Linked DNA regions of Homo sapiens. The protein of the gene in region 1 purifies or fractionates together with the protein of each later gene. This does not show direct contact. Each region holds a gene or a part of one and is shown in the gene's direction. Other genes may lie near its edges. The genes, in order: TMEM108, ECHDC1 and XPO7.

Region 1 (3,599 bases):
TTAGATAGGTGTTGAACTAATTCCAGACACTGAAGGAAATTCTTGTCTTCTGAAAAGACATTTTATCAACAATGGCATTTCTTCCTTACCTTATGATTCATACAGCAGTAAGTACTCCTCAGAAAGTATCTGTTATGTATGTTTTGTTTAAAAATAAACTTCAGAGAATTAATTGTGGCTAAGCAAATCTGGCATGAGCCAGTATACCTAGGCCTATAGTTGAGTCTTTGTCCTGAAATGGCTTGAAGGTTCCAAGACATTAGCTGTTTTAATTGGAAGAAGCTATGACTTTCTTTTTTTCTCTCTCTTAATTAGTACCAGGGCCCAAATCCAAGTACAGCCATTTAGTAGCCCGTAAATGTTTGCTTGTCCTTGGTAAGTGAAACCAAAACCCTGCCAAAGCCATACAGATTACCTTCTGGGCAGTGGATGGCCTATTTCTAGGCTTTTCTGCTCCTGCAACTGAACATACAGACTGAAATTTTCATCTGTCACTTATTATGCAGTCACACAGAGATGCAGATCCATTCAGCTCAGCATCACTAGTGCTATAAGAAATGGGGCAATAATTCTGACCAGGCTCTGGAAGGACTCAGAGCGGGAAGGAATTGGCCCTTGAAGCCTCTTGACAGGTCTGTTAGATCCTGACAGGTGGGTAGCAGGAAACAGGCGAGTGAGTCTAGGTGTATTCAGGAAGGAAAAGCAGAGAAGTTTCCCAGAAGTCTGTGAGAAAGAGGCAGGAAGTAGTCTGGGTGCAAGTGGACTGAGTTTTGCCACTAGTGCAGTGAGCCATGCACTGTATGTGTGTCATGCATGGCAAGTCCCCTCAGACTTTGACAAGGAAAGCAGTACCATCTCTGGCAACCTGGGATTGGGGTGATTCCAGAAGCAGGGAACATTTTTTGAAAGCTGCTATAAAAATATGAAAGAACAGCACAAAAATTAAAATATACACATACACACACACACACAAATTAATTAAAAGAATGGCATAGAGGGCTGTGCACCTCAGCATTAGCAGTAGGGATGATGAAAATGTGCACCAAGCCATCAGTGCTGAAATAAATGTTCCCATGTGTACATTTCTTTAAGAATGGCCACCTCTTAAGCCTTCTCCAGCTCACTCCATCTCCTCCCTCTCTCTTCCCAGGACCAGCTCTCAGAGCCCCGCTCCCCAGCCAATGGCGACTATAGAGACACTGGGATGGTCCTTGTTAACCCCTTCTGTCAAGAAACACTGTTTGTGGGAAACGATCAAGTATCTGAGATCTAACTACAGCAGGCATCACTTTGCCATTCCGTATTTTTCGTCTCTAAATTATAAATATACAAATACATATATTATAAATATAACCTTTGTGTAACCCTGACTTAATGAGAAACATTTTCAGCTTTTTTTCCTATGAATTGTCAACATCTTTTTTACAAGTGTGGTTTAAAAAAAAAAAAAACTTTACAGAATGATCTGTGGCTTTATAAAATAAAGGTATTTCTAAGCAAAGCAGTTGCATTGATTGCTTCTCTTAATAACTATTCTTGAGCACCTGGGGATCCCAGGAACCCTGGTCAGGTGAGGTAAGAGACTGACCTCCTGTAGAAGCTGAATGTTACAGTGCAAGCGCACGATTCTTTGAGTGATTCTTAAAGCTCTGGTTCCTCTTGATTTGGTGTGACCCCATTTCCTCCCTTCTCATACGCACACCTGTAAAGGGAACTGGACCGCCTCAGGGGAAGACGGCAGACTCATGCACAGAGAAGGAAAAGGGAACATCTCATCACCTCTGAGGATGAGTACCCTGGAGCCTTATGACGGCACCATTGGATGTCATGTTTAATTCCATCCAAGTTGTGGATGGCAGGCAGGAGCATGGAGCCCTCAGGAATCCATGGAGGACATCAAGGCATCCCAAGGCCATATTCCCCTAACATTACTTCCACTGCTAACAACAGGACTGCCTTTCCCTGGTGGGAAAATGCTCCCTTTATGCCCATTCCTGTATCCCCTCCAACACCCACATCTGCATTAAACACCCGTGCCTTTCTCTTGGAGAGGGTTTAGATGCAGATCCCGGCCCTGGAGCTTTAAAATGCTTGCCCTTCCTTCTTCAAGGATCAAATGTTTATTGGGGTTCAGCTTTGTTTTCTCAAAAGGCCATGGTATCGTGCCCCTGAGGAACATGTTTATCTAAGAAGCTTTGAGGTAGTAGAGCGATAATTTTTGAAACCTTCCTCCTGCAATCTTTAAAAAAGAAAAAAAAGATTGCCCAAACAAATCATTTGGGAGAAGACATCATTATACTCCTACTTGGCACTGCAAACCTGCTCGCAGCACCAGCCGGTGGACTTGCCATCCAGCTCTCAGCTTCCACTGCTCCCCTTGTTCCCGGCCGGCTGGCTGCCTCCCCGTGCTGTGTCCAGCACGGCCAACAACGTCAGACCCTCAGAGACGCCCAAGGGGCTTCCAGAGGTGGCCGCTTCTCTATTTTTTCCTGATTGTGGCTGAGAGAGATGATTACTGCTTTGACACTTCCTTTCTCTAAAAGAAAAATAGTTTGATAGTATATTTTGAATATAGATGCTCTTATAGTCAGATTGGGAATTGAACTTGAATATTGGGTCATATGTTTGTGTTGTTGCTGTAGTCTATCATGACTTTTTTCTTTCTGCATTTTCCTTAAAAAAAAAAAAAAGATGGCCTTCAAAAGTGTGTTCTCAATGTTGTATGAACCTCCTTCACATGAGTTCGGTTGTTGTCTCTCTTCAAAGACTCTTCAACCCACAAAGAAGCAACTAAATGTTTCTCTAAGTTTAATTTTCTAGCGTGTTGTTGTCTTACCTTTTTAACCTTACCATAATATTTCTGTTAACTGTTACATTTAATATACCAATGTGTGTAAGTATACAGAGAAAAATCTGTTTGTAAAGTAAAATTTATATATAATATATGTAATCAAAGATACATATGTTATATATACATATGTGGATGTATGACTTATTTTTCCTTATCCACAGATTTCAGCTACCATGTATATATAAATAAACTTATTTTATTAGCCAGAGGATTCTGTTGCTAATACATTTTGCATTCTTTTCAAGATAAGCTCTAAGTCTTCCTTAAGCAGTACCAACACCACTTTATATCCATCTGTATTTTTTAATCTGATTTAACAGTAAGTTGAGTTTTATGTATGTGATGAGCTAATAGGATTAGCAGTTTATCATTTGATAAAATAAATCTTTTTGAACATGTTTGCAGTTTCTCCAAAACAGACTCATCTTTCATCAGGTCTTTGGAGACAGTGGTGTCAAAGTACATCCCCCCCTCTTTCTCCCTGTCTCCAGGGCTGAGTGGATTTATATAGTAAATATCTTTGGTCCGGAGAAGTCTGAAGTTAACCTGGCCATTGAGTGTTACCATTCTGTAGAGAATAACAATGCCTAAACATGACACATTTGTGCACAACTTAATCAGTAGCCTGAACTTTTCATTCAGCCTTGGACAATACATCTTGGAATTCACAATAATGCAGATCCTCAGAACCAAGTCAGTGTCATCCGTATAGGAGGCTGTTACTGTAACACAGGCTCGCATGCCCCTT
Region 2 (3,656 bases), on another chromosome or scaffold:
TAGAATGTTATGCCAGAGTCAGATTGAAAAGTAAGTCACAATATACAGGGTTAAATAAAACCCATCTGATGAGAATTTATGGTTTGTAGGGCATGACTCCCCAGACCCCTTAGGTGGGAATTTGGGCAAGATTAAAAAATCAGAGCTTAGTCCTCAGTGTGGTTAACCAATTTGTTTCAAGCCCCATTGCTTGGCATTTCTCAATAAAGTCTGAAATTTTTAGTTTAAGTTGCTTCCACTAGCTAAGAGATTTTGAGGCAACTTGATATTTACATTTGAGTGATAACTTAGAAAGTGTCTAAAATCCTTGGTGTTTTTTTCATAACCACTTCACACTTTGTAATTGGTAACATTTTATTTGTAAAACTTTTCCCCGCTTCCATTTTCCGTAGACTTGAATTTTCTATGCTTATCACTTTATTTCTCCTTCAGGGTAAAATATTTAAAAATACAGTTCTGTGTGCCTTAGAGCAAGAAAACTCTCAACCACAGAATTTGTCCTTGCCCAGGAAAGTTTTGCTTTCCAGTTAAAGAGAGAGTTTATTTGACCAGGATAGCTCATTTTCCAATAATGGTAGATAACTAATGGTAATAATTTCAGAAATACTTCCTTTCCATAGACAGAACTTTTACTTCCCTTTGGGAAAGCAGGGAAATAGGTCTTTGAACCAGACTGCAGTTTTGGGTAATGGAGCTATATAAGGGAAAGAGATAAGTTAAATATGGGGAATAATATTCAGTGAATGAAAATAATATTTGCAGGAACATTATTTCAAGTGAATCATTTGTTTAAAATTAAATAATCTATTATTTAAGTATATGGCAGTAATTTTTGGCATTTAAAAATTTTATTTAGTTTCACAGTATCCTCTCATTCTTCTACATGCCCGGTAATTTTATGTAGTACTGGTAAAGTACCTATTATTGCACTAAATTAGGTGGTGAGAACATCTGTGATATAAACTTTCATTCTGCCTTTATTGTGTCACTAAACATTTCCATGTTCTAATTAGATTCTTTTATTTTGAAGTTTATTTTAAAAATCTTGCAGGGTACCTTGAATTAACTGAAAATATCCTAGAATGTTGCAAAATCATGTTTGATCATTGTTCCCTCTAGCTTTCTAGTTCTTCAGGAGGCCTTAGATACCTTAAAATCTGTTAATACCATAGAATCAGTTAATACCGTATCATTTTCTAATTTGACAGAACAGGTGATGGGATGGAAGGATGTCTCATAAGTTATACTGTATGAGTTTTGGAAAAGGAGTATGGAATTGCCAATAGATGAAGACATTAAAGTATTGAAAATACTAAATATTTAGATATTTTGCAACTTGTAACATTTGACCACTTTCCTTATTAGTTGCTTATTAGTTTTGTATATCACATTGACCCAAACCTTATTAATCACAATTCATTAAGTAGGTCACCCAGTGCTTTCATTATTCTTTATTCGGTAACCATAGCTGCTGGCAACTGGTGACTTTTTTGGTGGGAGGGAGGGAGGATACAAAGAAAGACGATAACAGATTTGAAATTAAGGGAAAGAATAAAGTTATGACAGTTAAAAGCAGGTCCTATCAAAGATTTATGATGGCAAGTTAGAACATCTTTTTTTTCTTGGAAAAATAACATCAAGTTTTTATTCTTAGATACCATTTTTTAAGATGACAAGCACCCCGCTACTTTTTTTGTCACACTCTAAAATATAATGCATTAGGTCACAATTTATCTGAGTTACACTTCAGTCTCCTTGAGGAGATTTAAGAAAGGTCTTGGTATCTTCAATATTGTAGTTATAAGCCACCTTAGTTGGTAAAGTTTTGAAATACTGTTCTCAAGTTTTTGAAATATATGTGTTTGAGGGGATTACATCCCACTGTGTGTTCAGGTAAGTATTCATTGGAAACACTTTGGTAAAAATGTCACTTGAAGGCCATGTGACTTAAAGTGGAAACCAGATATTGTATTGTAACCTTTATATGTTCTCTGTCAGTTTCTGATACCATTTTATAACTCACATATTAGATATATTTTTAAAGCTATAAAACAAGTTTGTGGCATTCCTTTTGGCTGCGTGATGAGTTATTTTTTTTACTTGCCTACATTCTCCCTCATTAACTATTAAGTAAGTACCTTTTATGTATTAAGTACTGTAGCCACTAGTGACACAAAGTATGTACCTCAGAATACTCTCAGGAAGCATCCTTCCAACTGAGAAAAACAAATGAAAAATTGAAATGATTTGAGGAATGTGTTAAAATGGAACATTATTGCAGTATACTGAGCTGGGATAAATAAAGGGAGTGATTATCTTTACTTGGGGAATCACTTTTAGGTGGAAATATAGAAATTCAGTTTTTAAAAATGATTGGGGATTTACCAGGTTAATGAGGGAGGAAAGAACAATATAGGGGAGAAGCAATAATATAAAATAGCATGGTAAATTTGTGGGACTCTGGTTATTTGGTGTTCTGTATTGATTGTGTAGAGATATCAGACGAGAAGAGATTCAGGATTTAGGTAAGAATTTAAAAAAAGCTTTGGACTTGATCCTTTTGGTAGACAGCTACTGAGAAACCTTAAATTTGAAATGTCCTGATTGGATTATAATCATATCCACATTACTCTAAAGAACAGTATGCTACTAACTGGTGACTGTTGTATTAATTCAGATTATATGTAATGAAGTTTGAACTGTATTAGTAATAGGAGAGGGAAAGATCAGAAGGAAGTAACCATTTTGGAGGGCCATTGCATACGGACCTCCAAATAGTGGTGGAGAAGGAGACTGGGTTGATTTAGAGGTTTTCTGGCATAGATTACAGGGTTGATGATACAATGAATAGTTCAGGGAAAGAAGGAGTAATGGGTTTTACGTGAAGTATGAGTTCAGGATTAAATAATGATTTTGAGAAGCCTATGATAAATCTAGAAATGAGGGGTAAGGGATTGCATTTCTGTTAGGCAATACTAAGGAGTACAGGCATAAGGTCTGAATTAGAGATAGAAATGTGAGATTCATGTCTTGTAGGTTTTAGGAAAGTTGTGAGCAGAAGAATAAAAGATCTCTAACAAATTAATAAAAAGGCAAATAAATAGAAATAATGGGCAAAAAGCTTGCACAGGAACTTCACAAAAGATGATATGCAAATGACCAATAAGCATAAGAAAATGGGGTTTATCTTCGTTAGACATTATAGAAACACAAAATGAAACCACAGTAAGATACCATCCACTAGAATGCCTAAAATAGAAAAAACAAAGAAGAAGTGATACTTGTGGAGCAACTGGAGCTTTCACTGCCTGTGGGAATATACATTTGTACAGCTATTTTAAAAAACTGACAGTATATTCTAAGGTTGAGCAAATGCATACATTATAACTGGTGGTATACTGGTAAACTGTGTGTGTGTGTGTGTGTGTGTGTGTGTGTGTGTGTGTGTGTGTGTGTAAGAGAAAGAGAGTATGATTGATATGTCATGTAGTCCCACCATGGTCAATTTCAAGCTACTGATAGTTTAAAGAACCAACTTGCAAAATAAATGTTTAATCATCAGTGTAGACTGGGCCGCAGCACACCAACCCAACAATTTCATTCCTAGATACATACCCATCAGACATGGGTATGTATTGATCAAAAGACACATGCTA
Region 3 (3,656 bases), on another chromosome or scaffold:
CTCTCCCACAGGATTACCCCAAGCTCAGCCAGTCTTATTATTCACTACTGGAAGTCCTGACCCAGGACCATATGAACTTTATTGCAAGCCTGGAACCTCACGTCATCATGTATATTCTCTCTTCCATTTCTGAAGGACTTACTGCACTTGGTAAGCACCTGAGGTGGGTGGGTGAGTTGGTGGGTTTGTTTTTTACCACTTAACTAAACAGAAAGAGAGAATCTTGCCCCAGTGTCCAAAAAGATCACCACTGCCTTGGGGGTTTGGCCATAACAATAGAGTATATAATGCACAGCACATGCTTATCCAGCACACACTCACTGATTCCCTTCCTAAGTACAAGGCCCTGTGGAAGCACTGAGGATACGGTAATTAACAGCATATAGTCCCTGTCCTTAAGGGGCTTATCTGGTGGGTAGAACAGACACATGAACAAACAACTGCCTGTTTACCATACTTACCACTTAAACATTACAATAGGGGTGAGTACAAAGTGCTACACAAGCCCTCAAGAATACCTAGACTCTTGGTTGTGAGGAAGTCAGGATCAAGGAAGACTGGCTGGAAGACTTGGCATCAAAGCATAAACCTAAAAGCTGGACAGATGTTACCCTGGTTAGCCAGGGAGGGTTCCTAGCAGCAGAGACAGCAAGCACTTGCACCTGTAGGCAAGAAAGAACCAGGAAATCCAGATGGCTGGCACACTAGTCCAGAGGAGTTAGGAATGAAATGAAGCTTTAGAGATAAGCAGGAGCAAATCTGGAGATCATGAAGGGGGCCCGCCTGTAAGCCGTATTAGGCTGTTTGAATTCTGTCCTGAGGGCCGTGGAAGCTGGGGAAAGGTTTCATGCAGCTAGCTCCATAAGTTTTTTCATCCTAGTCCATATGGTTTCTGTCAACCATTTTGTTTCTAGGCTACCTTCCAACAATTTTTTTTTTTTTTTTTTTGAGACGGAGTCGCTCTGTCGCCCAGGCTGGAGTGCAGTGGCGCGATCTCAGCTCACTGCAACCTCTGCCTCCCGGGTTCATGCCATTCTTCTGCCTCAGCCTCCCAAGTAGCTGGGACTATAGGCGCCCGCCACCATGCCTGGCTAATTTTTTTGTATTTTTAGTAGAGACGGAGTTTCACTGTGTTAGCCAGGATAGTCTCAATCTCCTGACCTCATGATCCGCCTGGCTTGGCCTCCCAAAATACTGGGATTACAGGCATGAGCCACCGTGCCTGGCCCAACAATCTTAGTAGGTATATGTGTTCAGAGAATAAAACACATTTTTATATTAGGCTGAGCAAAACATAAGTAGGAGGATTAAGTCAACTGCCAAATAGTGATGATATGTTGCAAATACACTTTTGGATTGTCAACTGTGGTGAATTATCCATGCCTCTGTGCGACTTTGATACACATTTACTTCTATCAGTCTATCAGGGTGCATAGCCGTATCTAGTACAGTCCAATCAAGGTATCAGCCCTTGCTTTGGAAGACTTTTTTATGTCTTATTGAAAATACAGGGACCTGGCCGGGCGTGGTGGCTCATCCCAGCACTTTGGGAGGCTGAGGCGGGCAGATCACAAGGTCAGGAGCTCGAGACCAGCCTGGCCAATATGGCAAAACCCTGTCTCTGTACAAAAATTAGCTCGGCGTGGTGGTGTGTGCCTGTAGTCCCAGCTACTCTGGAGGCTGAGGCAGAAGAATCACTTGAACCCGGGAAGTAGAAGCTGTGGTGAGCCGAGATCGTGCCACTTCTGCACTCCAGCCCGGGCGACAGAACGAGACTCCGTATCAAAAAAAAAAAAAAGAAAGAAAAAGCAAGTAGAGGGACGTTTGCATAAACTATCAGTCCCGTAGGAATCAGAGACTTGTTTACTCTTTTAAGGGTTCAGCCCCTTTGTCCTTTGGCCTTACCTCATCAGAGTTCTGTCCACAGGTTGTGCTGTACTGTTCCCTTTGTAAAGACGCATAGATGAGTCTGCAGCTCCCCCCAGAGATGCTTTGGAGATAAACAGATAATACAGCATACCGTGTTCTAACAAACCATAAACATTCAGGGGCTACGTCATTCTGGGTTTAATTACATCCCACTGGTAACTCAGAGCATAGGCTCATACCCCAGGCTTCTTGGATTCTAATCACAGCTCCTGCAATTACTAGCAGTTGATCCTTAGGCCGATACATAACCTCTCCTAATTCTGGTTTCCTCATTTGTAAAACAGAAAACCTAATTCCTGAGTTCTTGAGAGGATAAATTAGAGATAACACCTATAAAGTACTTAGCACAACATCTGGCACAAAAGAAGCACTTGCTGAATCAAACTATTTGTTATTTTGTGTGAGGCAGAAGATGTACGTACATCCACAACACATTGAGCCGATAATTTCAGTATTCTTTATTACCACATACTCACTTTCAAACTTAGAAATTGAGCCCTACTGTACAATGAGGTTAAGAGGTTAACAGGAGTCATCTTGAGCAACCGCCTTGGTTGAATTGGCCACGGTACCCTAATGGATCTCACCCAAAGATAGTCCATATTTGTCCAGGCCACCATCAGCAGCTCTGTCCTACCCCTGCCTTTCTTTCTTGCAGACACCATGGTATGCACAGGCTGCTGCTCCTGCCTGGACCACATTGTGACATACCTCTTCAAGCAGCTGTCACGTAGCACCAAGAAGAGGACCACACCCCTGAACCAGGAGAGCGACCGCTTTCTGCACATCATGCAGCAGCATCCAGAGATGATCCAGCAGGTAAGAAAGTGGAGGCTTAGGAGGCAGTGATGGGGTGTCCGACAGAGGAAGGACCTCTGCAAGACAGGGGAGCCCACACACGATTAACATGACATCTCATCAGGTTCCTGCTGCTGAGATGAAGTCCGTGTCTTAAAGTTGCAGTGGATTTTGAGTTTGCCAAGTAATCACTGGATGTAGAAAACGCTCAGGTTCTGGATTATTCTTCTGAGTGTCACAGTGATCCCTATGCCCTGGACCTGTCTCATGATCACTATCCTCTTTCTGTGAAAATTACTTTGCTCACCCACTGCTATAAATAGAGCAGGAGTTAGCAGCATCCAGCTTTCTAAAGGCTTGTGTTCCTGTTTACAAAACAGGAAGAAGAATGCAAGACAGAAGGAAATAACTGGCCACAGAGAGATCAAACCATATGCTTGCCCTTATTTTATTTGTATGTGCCTTGAAGTAACTTACAGAAATACATGCTAGATGAAAATAGATAAGGAAATGGGATCAGTAATTATTGAGATTTTAGCCAGTCTTACCTTTGTCCACACCGTTCTCTAAAGAAGCAGTGAAATAATTCAGGACTCCATTACATTCACAAGATGTCATAAAGCTGTCAACTCCGAGTACCTGGAAGGGATCATGCAAGGTGGTTTTGCTTACTGTAATTTTGTTTACGTGACCCCATCCCATTCCCCACAACTCAGGGTGACCTGGAAAGATCCATTGGTAAGTGAAGTTCAAACCAATTTTAAGAACAAGAAAGGAAATGAATATCTTAGAAGAAAAGGTAACCTTGAAATAGAAGACTCAGATGAAGCTTCACAAACTATTTGTCTGATTTACCCTATACAGAAAAGGCCTTCAGCCTAATATACTCCTGTATTTGGAATCTGTCGTTTTATCTTGGGTAGCAATAC

The links.
Region 2: the proteins of TMEM108 (region 1) and ECHDC1 purify together in Homo sapiens (affinity purification with mass spectrometry; one large-scale study listed by BioGRID and IntAct). This does not show direct contact.
Region 3: the proteins of TMEM108 (region 1) and XPO7 purify together in Homo sapiens (affinity purification with mass spectrometry; 2 studies listed by BioGRID and IntAct, with this or other methods). This does not show direct contact.

Annotation. Positions count from the first base shown.
Region 1 is NC_000003.12:133,394,714-133,398,312, forward strand, and holds the end of TMEM108 (transmembrane protein 108 isoform 1 precursor), read left to right. Parts: intron 1-1,150; coding exon 1,151-1,273; 3' UTR 1,274-3,062; downstream 3,063-3,599. UniProt on the Homo sapiens protein: Transmembrane protein required for proper cognitive functions. Involved in the development of dentate gyrus (DG) neuron circuitry, is necessary for AMPA receptors surface expression and proper excitatory postsynaptic currents of DG granule neurons.
Region 2 is NC_000006.12:127,333,467-127,337,122, reverse strand, and holds part of ECHDC1 (ethylmalonyl-CoA decarboxylase), read left to right. Parts: intron 1-3,656. UniProt on the Homo sapiens protein: Decarboxylates ethylmalonyl-CoA, a potentially toxic metabolite, to form butyryl-CoA, suggesting it might be involved in metabolite proofreading. Acts preferentially on (S)-ethylmalonyl-CoA but also has some activity on the (R)-isomer.
Region 3 is NC_000008.11:21,999,525-22,003,180, forward strand, and holds part of XPO7 (exportin-7), read left to right. Parts: intron 1-11; coding exon 12-150; intron 151-2,587; coding exon 2,588-2,748; intron 2,749-3,656.